3 separate regions of the Homo sapiens genome follow, and all the other regions are linked to region 3. The links come from fine-mapping of genetic effects on gene expression. A gene starts in region 3. Each other region holds a variant in brackets. All regions are shown on one strand. Distances are between the middles of the regions.

Region 1 (5,233 bases), 49 kb before region 3:
AAAATCTCAATGTATCTATATTATAGCTGATCACCACTAAATTTTCAGACATCTAAAAAAACCTACTTCCTTCCTATATTACTTGACCACAAACAGTGTAATAAGCCTGATTTAAAGGCCCTTTCCCTCTAAAAGTATTATTTTCAATGTTCACCAAGACTGAGTTTTATGAGTAAAATTTTCTCCCCTCCAATGTCAAAGGAACTCAGTGGTAAGAGTATAAAGTGACTAAACAGTTTTAGCCCTATCCTTCTTATGAAATAGCTTTGTGACCTTAGGCTAATCACGTCACCTCTCTGAGCTTCCAAGTTCTAATTTTCTAACAATGAAGTGCCAGGGAGATGAGAATAAACAACTTCAACGGCCTTTCCATGCCCAAAGACACTGCAGCAGAGCCGTCTATGAATGACAGATGAAATGCCTTAGAGGTTGTTACAGACTGAATGTTTGTATTAGACAAAAATGTATATGCTGAAATCTTAACCCCCAATGTGGGGGCATTAGGAGGGGAGGCCATTAGGAGATTATTACGTCATCTTTGGTATTAGAAACCCGTAACATCATTTTCTTTAGGTCTCTTATATTCACAGAGTGTCCTCAATTTTGTCTTTCATTATCTTATTCATTATTTATTCACTTTTAAAAGTAATATAAAGATATTCTTGTATTTATGCATTTAAACATACATGAATATATAACTAAGCAAACAGATAATAAAATTATTAAGTTTAGCTCTAAAATGCAGTTAACTGTCAGCATGCTAAATTTTAAAATATATAGTATTTGCCTAATGGGATTTTCCATTTTAATAAATTATAATAATTCCTTTAAGAAGAAAACAGACAAAATATATTATCATCTTGTATACTCATTTGTCTTACTCTGTAATTATAGTACTTAGTGTCATCTCAAACATTTATATTAATTACCACCTTTAACTAATCAACTTTTGTTTTCCTGGCCACAAGGAAACTAGAAGCAATATCTACTTAGATTTTTTCCATGAGTACACATTTTATACTGCATTTTAATAAACTTGAGATAAACACATTCAGATATATATATAATTCAAAGGCATTCAAATGCCCTATTAGTCTGTAGTATTTTGTAAAGATTGGAAATGAGTAAAACCCAAAATAATGTTTCTTGAATGATATTTAAACATTTTATTTTTATTTAGAAATAGTTGTGGTATACATATACCTTTTATTAATTAGCTTAATTTTATATTAGTCTAAGGTCTTAAAGCTAACCAAAGATCCAGAAATTACAAAGTTTACCAACACATTAAGCCCTTATGATCTGTTAAATAAGTATTCACAATATTAAATATCTAAAAGACACTCACATTTACAATTTTATTGGACTAAATACAATTTTATATTTCTTAACTTTATATAAGTTGCAGATATAATAACACATTATTGGGGCCATAGAACTAACATAGAATATTTTCAAATTTTAATCATGAGAAATTATATTCAAATCTTGTCTTAACTAAATACTAGGTGAACGTTTTTTACATAGTAATAAGATCAGAGAAAAACATGTAGAGCCTTTGTAAGCTAAAATTTAATTACTCATATTTGGTAAAATAGTTCTTTTCTTAGTAGAAGTAAACCTCTATGAGATATATCAATAATTTATAATCTATCAATCTCCAAAGTTTTCTGAGAGAAGTTAAAAACGGAAGGAAAGAAAAGAAGAAATGAGAGGGAACTGGCTTCTAATATAAAATCATCTCTGTAAAAAGGCTACTTACCCTTCTTTCTGCAAGGAAAGGAAAAGCCTAGACACAAGAAAAACCATTTCTCTCTCATGTACACATCCACATGTACTCACACTCATACATACTTGCACACATACACTCTTACACACACATGCACATGCACATACATATTCACATACATAAAAACAGTCACACATGTGCACAGTACAAGAAGAAAAGAAGGGGTCTCCTATTTCAAGGTCATCTCTCTCTTAGACAAGGCAGAATCACCTCCTGAAGGTTTCTTTTCTTTTTTGTTCTAATGTGTATCTCTAATAGACAATCATGTTTATGTTACAATTTTCTCAAAGTGATCATTGCAATTTCAGTTTGACCATGGTGGAGTCATGACAGAGACATGCACTTAAATGAAAGCTTTAAGGGAGCAGG[T/C]GTTTGTCCCAGAGGGCCAAACACATTGAGTAGAGCCCATGAGAACTACAGCAGACAGTAAGAATGGGTCTTGTACCACTTCTTATCTCTAGCATATGGCCACAGAGCAGTCATCACTGATAAGAGGCCCAAGGAAACCCCCAACAGTGGGCAGAAGAAACTAAATAAAATATTTCTCAGGGATGCAAAGACAAGACAATGGAAATTTCTTACAAGTTTTTGAACAGTATCCCAAGCCAAAGTTTGTCAAAAAATTATCAGTCTCATGAGACTGAACTCGTCAGTCTTGGAGTGGTCTGAAAGACGGACTTCGAGAGCCCGTGTGGTCCCTCTCTCTAGACTTCCTCCTGCAGACTCACAGGAGAAAGGGAGGAGTGTGGACAGCAGGAAACAGGGAGGAAGTGTTGGTATTTAGGCAGGTTTTCACCATGAATAATAATTTTCAAATTTAATTATCTAAAGGAAGGATACTTAAAATGATTCCTCATTCCTAGGAGAAAAAATGAATTTATTTGAAAATCAACTCAAGCAAGAGCAAATAAGAAATCAGGAGATCAGACATAATCAGGGCCCTACCTATCTTACGGTTGGAGAGATTTCTGAGTGGAAGGCTCAGAGGCCCCAAGGTAGCACCCTCTCCTGAGTGAGGAGTCTTGAGCCTCAGCAGCAAGGGGGAATTTAGTGAATCTCAGTGGTAGTTTAAGTATTGTTGAGTACTGACTTCCCAAAATATCACCAGAAAAATCTGCTGCTCAAACAAAGCTAAGTTGGTTAGGCTTGCTGCAGTAAGGGAAAAGACTTCTTTGACAGCTTTAGTAGTGAATCAGAAGGGAGAAGTCAGGGGAGAATATTAATAGCATTTGGAGGGCAACTCTGAGTTGGATGATTTTCTGCAAAGCAAGACTCTAGTTGGGATTGGGAAATGTATGTCATAATATTTTTGAATGGGTAGCTGTAGTGAGGAGAGGGTCCTTAAAGGCTATTGATGAATAAGGAGTTTGAATCGGTTCACTGTCTTGTCTTTCAGGAGCCTTATTTCCAGGAGTAAGTAGCTACGTTGTTTTTGCCTGATCACAGTATTATTTAGCACATGAATGAAAACTTCATTAGTTTTGGTTTTCATAACATACAATGATATAGAGGTCACAAGTATGGGCTTTGGCGGTGTACAGCCGTTTTCAAATCCCAGCTCCTTAGTTTACTAGCTGTGTGCCTGGAGCCACTGAATCACCTATACTTAGTCTCAGTTCTTTCATCTGCCTAATTATGTCATGTATTTGTTGACCTATTTCTGACACTGTTTTCATCATAACATATGTATTGACAGTTTCAAACACTGTTTGCAATATTTTATTTAATCCTTTACAATAGCCCAATGAAAAAATACACTCAAGCCCTTTTGCTAGATGAGGAAACAAAAACAGAGAAACATAGAGGCTAAATAAATTTCCCATCAGGAGACAAGTAAGTGGGCAAGCCATGACTTGGCCCCTGGTAAACTCTGGAGATGTCACAGTGAATTGCTATGCTATATGGCCTCCTTCAGGCTCATTGGGAGGGTTGAATGAGAAATTCAATATGCAGCAGGTCTTGGAACAGTGCCATTTGTTCAACGTGGTTTTGTTATATGACTGGGCCCTGCAATAGGATGGCCTCCTGGCCAGGGTTAGGTCCCTCTTTGCACTCTGAGCTGTCAGAATAGGCTCTGGCCACCCGTGACCCTGAACTGCAATAATTGGGTAATTATCTTCCTTGTTTTTATTAACGTTTCTTAAATGTATGTATAGCTCACATTTATTTTAGCTTTAGTATTAGAAGTGTTTAGGGGGTCTTTATTTTGAAGATTGGTGAGGTCTTCGTGATGTTATAGAAACTTAACTCTTGTTTATATCAATTAGCCTGTGGGAAAATTGGTTTCATTATATGTCATGTTGCTTATAGCCAAAGTTTCCAAGAAACTATCTAGGACATTAAATGAGAACTTAACTGTGTAACACTTAGTCCCTGGCACATGATAAAGGGTCAATGTTAGCTGCTACTATTAAACTATTGAAATGAAAATTCAGTAATAGTGTAAAGTCAAGAAAAGAACAGGATGCAGAGAATGCTTATTTTCTGACTTAGAGATTTCTGAAGGTGCAAAGTGTAAAAGTCATGACTATTCTGTAAAAATAGAAGAAAAACTTTCCCCATAAAGTAAAAACTGGTAGCATCCAATATATTACAGTCCTTCTCATTGTACCAAGTGGTCAGAGATTACAAGGCTTACAGAAACTTTGTATTATGCACCCTCTTGCTGCCTCCACTGGTGAGACAGTCAAGTGTTAGTCTTCCAAGTTGAAATGGAAAATAGATCGTCTCCATGGAATATATCAGTATTTTCTCTTCATGTTAAGTCTTAGTTCCAAACCACCTCCCCGGACAGTCGGAAATCCCACTGGCTGGAGGAATAAATAAATTCCTTATCTTGTCAAGGAAGCTCCTCCCAAGCTACAAAAGTTGCAGACAGCAAAGGGATCAAGTGACCCCAGAGATGAAATCTGTGACTCTCTGGTGGAGCAACATGATAGTAATAAACAAAGGTTGAGTGCCTGCTGTATAAAGCAACCTCTGGAGTGCCTGATATCTACTAACTCTTTTAGCACCCACTCGACCCTGTGAGATGCGTATTACTTTATTGTATCTACCACTGTAAAAAAGAATGAACCAAGCTACAGCAATATTATGTTGCTTGCCCTGAGTCACACAGCTGAGTAAGTCACAGGAGTTTGTGCTCATAATGACTTTGCTATGCTGATGTTTGAACCTGGAACCATTCAGCAACCCTCCAGCTAATATGGCTCCATGCTCTACTTCTGGAAAAGCTGAGTTCCTGCAGCCTTGTCCTACATCACCCAAAAGAGCTGGAAAAGAATGCAGTGAGTTCCATTCTATTTGTTCCGAGAATAGGAAAGCCACATTGAAGCAATATCTTAAAGAGAAATCTATAGTTAGGAGTGATGAAGATTTGAAACAGATGTCAGCAGAAAGAAAAAGGGAGAGGCACCATGATAATTATACTCAGTGATGCTTTTT
Region 2 (5,233 bases), 240 kb after region 3:
GAATACTATAAACACCTCTATGCAAATAAACTAGAAAATCTAGAAGAAATGGATAAATTTCTGGACACATACACCCTCCCAAGACTAAACCAGGAAGAAGTTGAATCTCTGTATAGACCAATAACAGGCTCTGAATTGAGGCAATAATTAATAGCATAGCAACCAAAAGAAGTCCAGGACCAGATGGATTCACAGGTCAATTCTACCAGAGGTACAAGGAGGAGCTGGTACCATTCCTTCTGAAACTATTCCAATCAATAGGAAAAGAAGGAATCCTCCCTAACTCATTTTATGAAGCCAACATCATCCTGATACCAAAGCCTGGCAGAGACACAACAAAAAAAAAGAGAATTTTAGACCAATATCCTTGATGAACATCGTTGCAAAAGTCCTCAATAAAATACTGGAAAACCGAATCCAGCAGCACATCAAAAAGCTTATCCACCATGATCAAGTGTGCTTCATCCGTGGGATGCAAGGCTGGTTCAACATACAAAAATCAATAAACGTAATCCATCATATAAACAGAACCAAAGACAAAAACCACATGATTATCTCAATAGATGCAGAAAAGGCCTTTGATAAAATTCAACAACCTTCATGCTAGAAACTCTCAATAAATTAGGTATTGATGGGATGTATCTCAAAATAATAAGAGCTATCTATGACACACCCACAGCCAATATCATACTCAATGGACAAAAACTGGAAGCATTCCCTTTGAAAACTGGCACAAGACAGGGATGCCGTCTCCCACCACTCCTATTCAACATAGTGTTGGAGGTTCTGGCCAGGGCAATCAGGCAGGAGAAGAAAATAAAGGGTATTCAATTAGGAAAAGAAGAAGTCAAATTGTCCCTGTTTGAAGATGACATGATTGTATATCTAGAAAACCCCATCGTCTCAGCCCAAAATCTCCTTAAGTTGATAAGCAACTTCAGCAAAGTCTCAGGATACAAAGTCAATGTGCAAAAATCACAAGCATTCTTATATACCAATAATAGACAAACAGAGAGCCAAATCATGAGTGAACTCCCATTCACAATTGCTTCAAAGAGAATAAAATACCTAGGAATCCAACTTACAAGGGATGTGAAGGACTTATTCAAGGAGAACTACAAACCACTGCTCAATGAAATAAAAGAGGATACAAACAAATGGAAGAACATTCCATGCTCATGGGTAGGAAGAATCAATATCATGAAAATGGCCATACTGCCCAAGGTAATTTACAGATTCAACGCCATCCCCATCAAGCTACCAATGACTTTCTTCACAGAATTGGAAAAAACTACTTTAAAGTTCATATGGAACCCAAAAAGAGCCCACATTGCCAAGTCAATCCTAAGCCAAAAGAACAAAGTTGGAGGCATCACGCTACCTGACTTCAAACTATGCTACAAGGCTACAGTAACCAAATCAGCATGGTCCTGGTACCAAAACAGAGATATAGATCAATGGAACAGAACAGAGCCCTCAGAAATAATGTCACATATCTACAACTATCTGATCTTTGACAAACCTGAGAAAAACAAGCAATGGGGAAAAGATTCCCTATTTAATAAATGGTGCTGGGAAAACTGGCTAGCCATATGTAGAAAGCTGAAACTGGATCCCTTCCTTACACCTTATACAAAAATTAATTCAAGATGGATTAAAGACTTAAATGGTAGACCTAAAACCATAAAAACCCTAGAAGAAAACCTAGGCAATACTATTCAGGACATACACATGGGCAAGGACTTCTTGACTAAAACACCAAAAGCAATGGCAACAAAAGACAAAATTGACAAATGGTATCTAATTAAACTAAAGAGCTTCTGCACAGCAAAAGAAACTACCATCAGAGTGAACAGGCAACCTACAGAATGGGAGAAAAGTTTTGCAACCTACTCATCTGACAAAGGGCTAATATCCAGAATCTACAATGAACTCAAACAAATTTACAAGAAAAAAACAAACAACCCCATCAAAAAGTGGACAAAGGATATGAACAGACACTTCTCAAAAGAAGACATTTATGCAGCCAAAAAACACATGAAAAAATGCTCATCATCACTGACTGTCAGAGAAATGTAAATCAAAACCACAATGAGATACCATCTCACACCAGTTAGAATGGCGATCATTAAAAAGTCAGGAAACAACAGGTGCTGGAGAGGGTGTGGAGAAATAGGAAGACTTTTACACTGTTGGTGGGACTCTAAACTAGTTCAACCATTGTGGAAGCTGGTGTGGCGATTCCTCAGGGATCTAGAACTAGAAATACCATTTGACCCAGCCATCCCATTACTGGGTATATACCCAAAGTATATAAATCATGCTGCTATAAAGACACATGCACACGCATGTTTATTGCGGCACTATTCACAATAGCAAAGACTTGGAACCAACCCAAATGTCCAGCAATGATAGACTGGATTAAGAAAATGTGGCACATATACACCATGGAATACTATGCAGCCATAAAAAATGATGAGTTCATGTCCTTTGTAGGGACATGGATGAAGCTGGAAACCATCATTCTCAGCAAAGTATCACAAGGACAAAAAACCAAACCC[T/C]GCATGTTCTCACTCATAGGTGGGAATTGAACAATGAGAACACATGGACACAGGAAGGGGAACATCACACACTGGGGCCTGTTGTGGGGTGAGGGCAGTGGGGAGGGATAGCATTAGGAGATATACCTAATGCTAAATGACGAGTTAACGGGTGCAGCACACCAACATGGCACATGTATACATATGTAACAAACCTGCACGTTGTGCATATGTACAATAAAACTTAAAGTATATATATAAAAAAAAAGACTTGCCCTGCTTCACTGGGAAAATAGAGTCCTCGGGAACTTCTCAGCTTTGGGGTGCCACATGCACAGGTGCCTGATTACTGTAAAGAGAGCTTCTTGCTCTTAGAAAAGCAACAACTTCCTCCACTCAGGCTCGGGGTCCTAACCAATCTCACCTGCTTGGTGTTATCAATTGTTCCCTCTCCTACACCTTCCAATTCTCCCTCTTTACTGGATCTTTGCTATTAGCATTGAGATATCCTAGTGTTCCCATTTTCAACAAAAGAAGAAGAAGATGAAGAGGAAGACAAAGTCAGAAAATAGAAGAAAATAGAAAAACAACAAAAAAGCCTTCTGGATCTTTACATGCCTCTCCAGATACAAATATCTTCCCCATCTCTCCCTCTGCTCACATCCTACCTACTTCTGAGCCCGCTGCATCTTCATAACCACCCATGTGACTCCACCACAGCTCTTGTGAAGGCTTCCTATGACTTTCAAGTCATTATGTCCAATGGATACCTTTAAATCTTCACCTTACTTGGCTTCTCAGAAGCAGTAAATAGAGTTGATGACTCCACCCTTCCTGAAATCCTTTCTGTTCCTTTGGCTTCTGCAACACCACATCTAGTTTACCTCCTACCATTCTCCATGTTGGAGAATGGTGTCTTGCGCTGTATGACATTCAAATACTGAACTTCCTCTCAGCTCAAACCTAGGCACTCATTCTTCTTTTCTTTCTACAAGCTCTCTCTGAGAGTTCTCCTCCATTCCCATGGCTTGCATTTGCCTCTTTATGCCTTTGAGTTCCTGATTTTTCCCACTCCAGAATTTTCTCCTGAGCTTTAGAACAGGAGAAACATGTTCTAAACAGCCTACATGACTACTCTAACCAGATACCACACAAGCCCTCTCATTAATCATGTCCAACACTGAATTCACAATCATCTCCCCAGTCAGCACTGCTTCCAGAGTTCCTTATCTTGGGAAAAGGGTCTGCTTTCCATTCAGCAGCATTGCATCTTTTACATATGCAAAAGACCTCTGGTCATTCCTGAAGCATCTTACCTTCATCCCAATATCCACTTGATCATCAGATCTTGTTTATTCTATTCACTAAACATTTTTGAGTCATCTTCTTCTCTGTACCTCCACGCTCAGCACTCCAATCCAGGCTACAATGATCTCCTACATGCACCATTACTGTAGTCTCATACAGCCTTCTTTTACTACTCTCTCCACCTCCAATTTGTTCTCCTCACAACAGAGTGAAAATTTTAATAAACTTATCTATTCATTGCACTCATTTGCAAAAACTTTTCTGAAACTGTCCATTGCTTATAGGACAAAGTCCGATATTCATATCTGCCCTATGCAGCTCTGCACGGTGGGCCCCTGTGCATCACCCCCGTCATTTTCCCCCTCGCTTTCTGCTCTCCAATGTTTCTGGTCTTTTTTTTTTTTTTTTTTTTTTTAAATTCCGTGAATTTCAGATGTCATCAATTGTAGGACATGTCTTCATTTCAGGGATTTTTAATGTGATGGAAAATGCATCTTATAATTAATCAGTAAAACACAGTAGTTCCTGACACTGGTCCTTCCAAATGCAGGGTGTTTGCTCTGAATCCCACCCCCATGCCTCCCTTTTTGCTTGGGGTACTTTTCTCATATTCCAGTTTTCAGCTTATATGTGACTTCCTCAGGAAAGTGCTTCCAGAATTCCACCCAAGACTAGGTTAGGATCCTCCTCGTTACACACCTGTATCCTCATGGTACACTTTAACTTTTCAAAGCACTTATGGTGACCATGAAACAGCTGTTTGTATGGGTAATGTGTTTAAAGTCTGTCCCCCTTCATAGACCACAGACTCAGAGACACTGCAGGGGCAGTGTCCGCCAGGTTAACCACTCTGTCTTCAGCAGATAACACCTGCACTGACTTCCTTTAATCCTCACAGCACAATAATAAGGTAGATCTATTATTATCTCCTTTCTAGAGAGGAAAAGTAGGCCACAGAGAGGTAGCTACTCAGGTCACACAGCTATTAATTTGAACGCATAAAATCTGATTACTGATTCTGTTCTCTTAATTGCCCTCTATCCTACTTGTGTATAATGTATACTCAATGATTATTGAATGAATGAATAAAATTTTTAAAAATTATTTTAAATGTTAATTGTTAATGGAAATTCAAAAACTGGGAGAAGTAATGAGACTAAGGAGTTGGTTACTGATAACCTTAGAGACAATTTCAAATTCTAATGAAACATTGATTACAAAGACCATGTCTTATTCCTTTATGGATGGTTGATGATATCTTCCTCATCACTCTACAAAATAGAGTGTTCCTCACAGCATTTACTGTTACACGATTTTTCCTTTCTTCTCTCCTTCTTTTGTTGTTTCCTTCCTCTCTCTTTTTTGTTTCCCTCCTTCTCCTCCCC
Region 3 (5,233 bases):
TGGGAACCCACCTCTTGCATCAGAGTGACCTGGATATGAGACCTGGAGTCAAAGGAGATAATTCTGGAGCTTTAAAATTTGACTGCCCCACTCGAATTCAGACTTGCATGGGCCCTGTAACCCCGCTGTTTTGGCCAATTTCTCCCATTTGAAATGGCTGTATTTACCCAATACCTGTACCCTCATTGTATCTAAGAAGTAACTAGCTTACTTTTGATTTTACAGGCTCTTAGGTAGAAGGGACTTGCCTTGTCTCAGATGAGACTTTGGACTGTGGACTTTTGGGTTAATGCTGAAATGAGTTAAGGCTTTGGGGGACTGTTGGGAAAACATGATTGGTTCTGAAATGTGAGGGCATGAAATTTGGAGGGACTGGGGCAGAATGATATAGTTTGGCTGTGATCCCATTCAAATCTCAACATCAAATTGTATCTCTCAGAATTCCCATGTGTTTTGGGAAGAACCCAGAGGGAGGTAATTGAATCATGGGGGCCGGTCTTTCCTGTGCTATTCTCGTGATAGTGAATTAATTCTCATGAAACCTAATGGGTTTATTGGGGGTTTCTGCTTTTACTTCTTCCTCATTTTCTCTTGCCACCTCCATGTAAGAAGTGCCTTTCACCTCCTGCCATGATTCTGAGGCCTCCCCAGCCATGTGGAACTGTAACTCCAATTAAACCCCTTTTTCTTTCCAGTCTGGGATATGTCTTTATCTGCAGTGTGAAAACGGACTAATACAGTGACCCTACTTTGTTTTATCTCTCTGAGCTTCCAGTATCTAATTTCTTTAAAAAATTGATATGACTACAGGGTTTTGTGAGAATTTAAGGGTAAAAATATCTTTGGTGTGGGGGGTGGGGGGTGGCTAGAGCATTGTGTTTTGAAATTTAGCTCTCATTTTTATTTTATATGAAGCACCATCACTCAGATTTATTTCTTAATCCAGTTCTCCACCTCCTTCATTGAGATAATATAATAGAGGGTTGTAAGGGGGCCCTGAATGGGAGAAAGGATATATGGATGCAGAAGGAGATGCCACAAGATAAAAGCTGAGAGAGCTACTTCAATAAAAACTCTGTGAACTCTCCCCTCCCACCGTCTCTTGATAATAGCCTAACACTATTTGACAAAAGGTAAAGAAAGGCATTCTCTTTATTCTGCAACATGACCTTTGGGGGGTTTCTGTGCATCATCAGGGCAGGGTCAAGCAGCATCCAACCATCCACAGGTGAAAAGGCATGGGGCCGGGGGGAGGCGGGAGTGCTTCTGAAGGCGCGGGTGGGTGGGTTTGTGGGGCTGGAAAAGAGGAATGAAACCAGATGCCACAATGCAACTGCTCTCTCTGGTCCCTGAGCCCTCCTGAGACACTCCCAGGGGTTGCTACGAAACATGATCAAGAGCTGTGGGTTCAGCAATTGACAGAAATGTATCAAATCACTAAGCATTTCTTGCTTGCCTGTTACACATTGGGCATGGTGTTAGCAATGGTGACACAAAGATGATAAAGACGTCGCTGATCTCAAGTCCTTGTCTGGTTCAACCACGTGCCAAGACATTTTAATACTCTGTTGGGAATTCTCAGGCAGCACAGGCCCAGGCGTTAGCAAAGCAGCCAGGGATTTCAGACAGAGGGTGCCATCCAGGGTAAGAAAATGAACTTTTTGTGTCACATTTGCATTTTCATTCCTTAACTAAGAGTATCTGAAAATACTGATGGCACAAACGAACTAAATTCCTGCTTCAGCACCAAATGGATGAACTACTACGGTTTAAGCATTGAACTAGTCCTAATATCACCATTCCAGAAATGTCTTAGTATTAATCAGGACAAGAAATAGGGATCTCTTTCGCAAGAAGCGAGACTGCACTCCTTCCTTTCCTTGTATACGGAAAGGGGACAAAATCCACAGTGAAAGGCCTAGAAGCGGCGCACTCCGCCCACGGGCGGCCCACGTGTCCACCTATTCCGCACCGCGCCCTGTCCCATCCCTATGGAGCGGGGTCTGCCAACGCTCGCGAGAGCCCTCTCGGCTTCCACGTTTGCCACGTTCCAAAGGACCGAGACAAACTGGAAAGCCGAAAGAGGCTCGCGCTCACAGGCAGCTGCGTAGCGCCCGAACAGCCCTAAGTGAGCAGGGGCGGGGAGCGCGGCAGGGTACCGCCGCCTCGTAAGGGCCCTTGCGATTGGGTCCCAGGCGCCGTCACTCAGCCTTCCGGGGGCGGGGCGAGGCCGGGAAGGGGCGTGGCCGTCGGGCGGCGAGCCGCGCGCTCTCGCCCCGGGAGGGAGTCACAGGTTCGTACACGCGAGGCCGGGCGCGCGCAGCCGGCAGGCGGGTGAAGTCTTCCCAGGTGCTGCAGGCGGTGCTGAGGCACAGGGTCTGCTGCAGGAGCAGCGGCCCGAACCCGCTCCAGCGGCCCGCCGCCGCCAGCGGTTCCCGCGTCGCGTGTGTACCCCCGCGCACTGAAGGAGGTCCGCCAGCCCTCACCAGCCCCCGCGGACCGTGCAATGGCCCAGCGTAAGAATGCCAAGAGCAGCGGCAACAGCAGCAGCAGCGGCTCCGGCAGCGGTAGCACGAGTGCGGGCAGCAGCAGCCCCGGGGCCCGGAGAGGTCAGAGGCCCTGCGGGGCGGGGATCTGGGGCCTCGCCTCGGGGTAGGGAGCCGGCTGGCGCGGCGGACGCTGCGGGTGCATCTCCCCAGGTCCCACCGCGCGCCGCCTCCATCCCCCGCGACGCTCCTCCTTTAGGCGCGCGGGGCGGAGGCCGCATTCGGCGGGCCTGGCGGGCGGGCGAGGGGCCAGGCGGACCGGGGTCCGAGCCCTCGGGATGCTAGTCTCGGGGAGCCCCTTCCCAGCGGTTCCTTCACCTGCAGGGCGCAGCCGAGACAGAGGTTGCTGAACGACTGTTTCTTGGCTTTCCGTGGAATTGAACATGGGAGTAAGAGAACAATTTATCGTTTGCCTTGCGTGTTTTGGGGAGTTGAAAATGAGCCAAAGTCAGGGAAAGTGAGTTCCTGCCTAACCAGCAGCGTTTCAGAGCAACTCAAAGGAGGTGAAAATGGGGGCGCCGGGGGGCAGGGGGAGGGAAGAAGTTGGGAGTGATTTGAATGCTCTCAGAAATTATTTTAAATATTTTTGCTTGTATGTAGCTTTCTTAATATGCGTTGCAGTTGCCTTTAAAATAGAATGTCATGAAATACTGAACGAGCGTCTGTATTTTTACCACTTTTACTTAAAATAAAAATCGATTGGATATTCACCTTTCTCCTCGTCCGTGTGCATATCCAGCAGAGAGAACAGATTTTTAAATCTGTTTCGTCTCATATTTCAGTGATTCTTGGTTTCTTTTATACTTCCTTTGACTCATATTTGGGATATTGAAACTGCAATACACATGTGTATGGAATGTGAGCTGTAAACTTCACTTGAAGTGATTTAGACTCTTTGTTTTCTGAGATCTTCAGATCATGCATTCATAATATACCAAGAAAATGAATCAGCTATAGTCAAAGAAGTATTTTCTTTATAGCACTTGTCACTATCTGAACTTGTCTTATTACTTTCATGTGTGTTGTCTTTGGCTCATTCTCTCTGTATCCCCAGCTCCTAGAATGTTCCTTTCCCATAATAGGTGCTCAATAAATATTTGAGTAGTGAATGAATGAATGGATTTAAATGGGGAAAGTAGTGCATTAAATCCATTGCACAAATTTACATTCTAAGGACTAATATTTGTATTCTAAAAGTAAAGATGTAGACACAGTTTGAAGTTCAATGCAAGCATATTAATTCACCTTTGACATAAGTGAAAGTTTGTGTTCCTTTTTCACTTGTTCTTAAATGTCACTTACTTAAACCTGCAGAGGGATAGATTAATTGCCTCAGCCGACTGAGGCTACTCTTTTTTAACATCCCTAAATGAGAATGGGTTCTTCTCATTGTGCCTCTAAGGGCACTAAGCAGAGAAAGCTGATGAACAACTTTAATGTTAGTTGTTTTCAAAAGGTTTCTGTAGCTATTTGCCAGAGAAGCATGTCTTCGTTCCATTTCATTTTTGTGTTTATGAGGAGAGGGCTGATTGCATCTGAGGGAAGTCACTTTATATGGCCTCTTATTGGTGAGAACTAATACTGGGAAATGTGTCTCACGTTTCTAGACCTACCCCATAACTATTTGAAGCATTTTAACAGGCAAGAGATAGGTTTAGAAAATGCAGTAACTTAAATTAACTTCTCCTGACTTTCATAGTCAGGCATTTTAGAACAAACTCTGCCCATATTTGAGGATCTACAGCCTTTTAAGCATTTTACACGTTGATTCTCTAATAGTCATGAAACAGACATAGTATGTAAAAGAATATGTAAAAGGGAGGAATGCCCGTGATACGAAAACAAAAGTTGATATTGGAACCCTGCATGTGACGTAATGAGTATTCTTTATCCGCATATCCGCAACCTTTTCTTTTTTTTCTCCAGTAGATACTGAGTTCTTACTGTGTGCCAGATAGAAGGCACTGGGTATGGAAACCATTTCCTTCCATCACCCTAAACAGTTAAAGTACAGTGTCGTGTATAGTAGGCTGTACTCGAAAGATAAAGCCGGCTTTTCTTTTAATGCTGTTTACCTGGTCATTAAAGTACGGACGTTGTGCGAACCATTTCCTTCTACTGGGAAAATCAAAGACTTTTTAGCAGTGTCATACTGTGAGACCCATTTAGTTTCCTGCTCAAATCATACAGATGAGGAAATTAATGCCCAGAGAAGTTGCCGAGTTCATTGAAGGTTGTTTAGTTCATGGAAACTCAACTAATTACTGGAAGAACCGAGACTAAGAACCCAGGTTTTGTTATTCATTTTGCCATGCTTGAATTTTAGGTTCTCTAGTATGTAATTGGAGTTGAACTAGATTATCAAGTTTTCTTCTGGCTGTCTCCATGAGTACTACATTTAATTATTGGAGAAAACTATGCTTTTGTCCTATCACCAATTACATTTCCCTTGACAAAAATTCTATTTGAAACACTATTTGAAATTTTAGTTTGAGAAGAAGTATATGTGTTCAAATAGTACGTTTTTTGATATGTCTTACATTGAGAGTCAGAAAATGACGGCATTGGTCACATTAAACATTATTATTTCTTAAGTTGTTGTGTAAACGTATGGGGAAAAAAGAACCCAGTCATTTGAAACATGCATTTTAGGGAAAAGGTGATTTCTTTTTTTTTTCCTGGCCAAA

Evidence for each region. PIP is the estimated chance that this variant, and not a neighbour inherited with it, causes the effect.
Region 1: its variant is the best candidate, but not a certain one, in a credible set for the expression of ASPH in whole blood (GTEx, PIP 0.70).
Region 2: its variant is the best candidate, but not a certain one, in a credible set for the expression of ASPH in whole blood (INTERVAL, PIP 0.69).

What each region holds. Positions count from the first base shown.
Region 1 is chr8:61,761,086-61,766,318 of GRCh38, reverse strand. No RefSeq gene overlaps it. Among named protein-coding and RNA genes, the nearest start is that of LINC02842, 21 kb to the left of the region's middle. The variant T/C (reference allele first, on the strand shown) is at 2,159.
Region 2 is chr8:61,472,372-61,477,604 of GRCh38, reverse strand. All of the region lies in intron 5 of CLVS1 (clavesin 1), which reads right to left. Among named protein-coding and RNA genes, the nearest start is that of CLVS1, 190 kb to the right of the region's middle. The variant T/C (reference allele first, on the strand shown) is at 2,562.
Region 3 is chr8:61,711,645-61,716,877 of GRCh38, reverse strand. It overlaps ASPH (aspartate beta-hydroxylase), which reads left to right and starts at 2,286. Exons shown (of 25, transcript NM_004318.4): 1 at 2,286-2,609. The coding sequence starts at 2,507. MIR4470 (microRNA 4470) reads right to left here and starts at 2,090; the gene lies at 2,019-2,090. RefSeq lists silencers at 2,077-2,446, 2,487-2,916.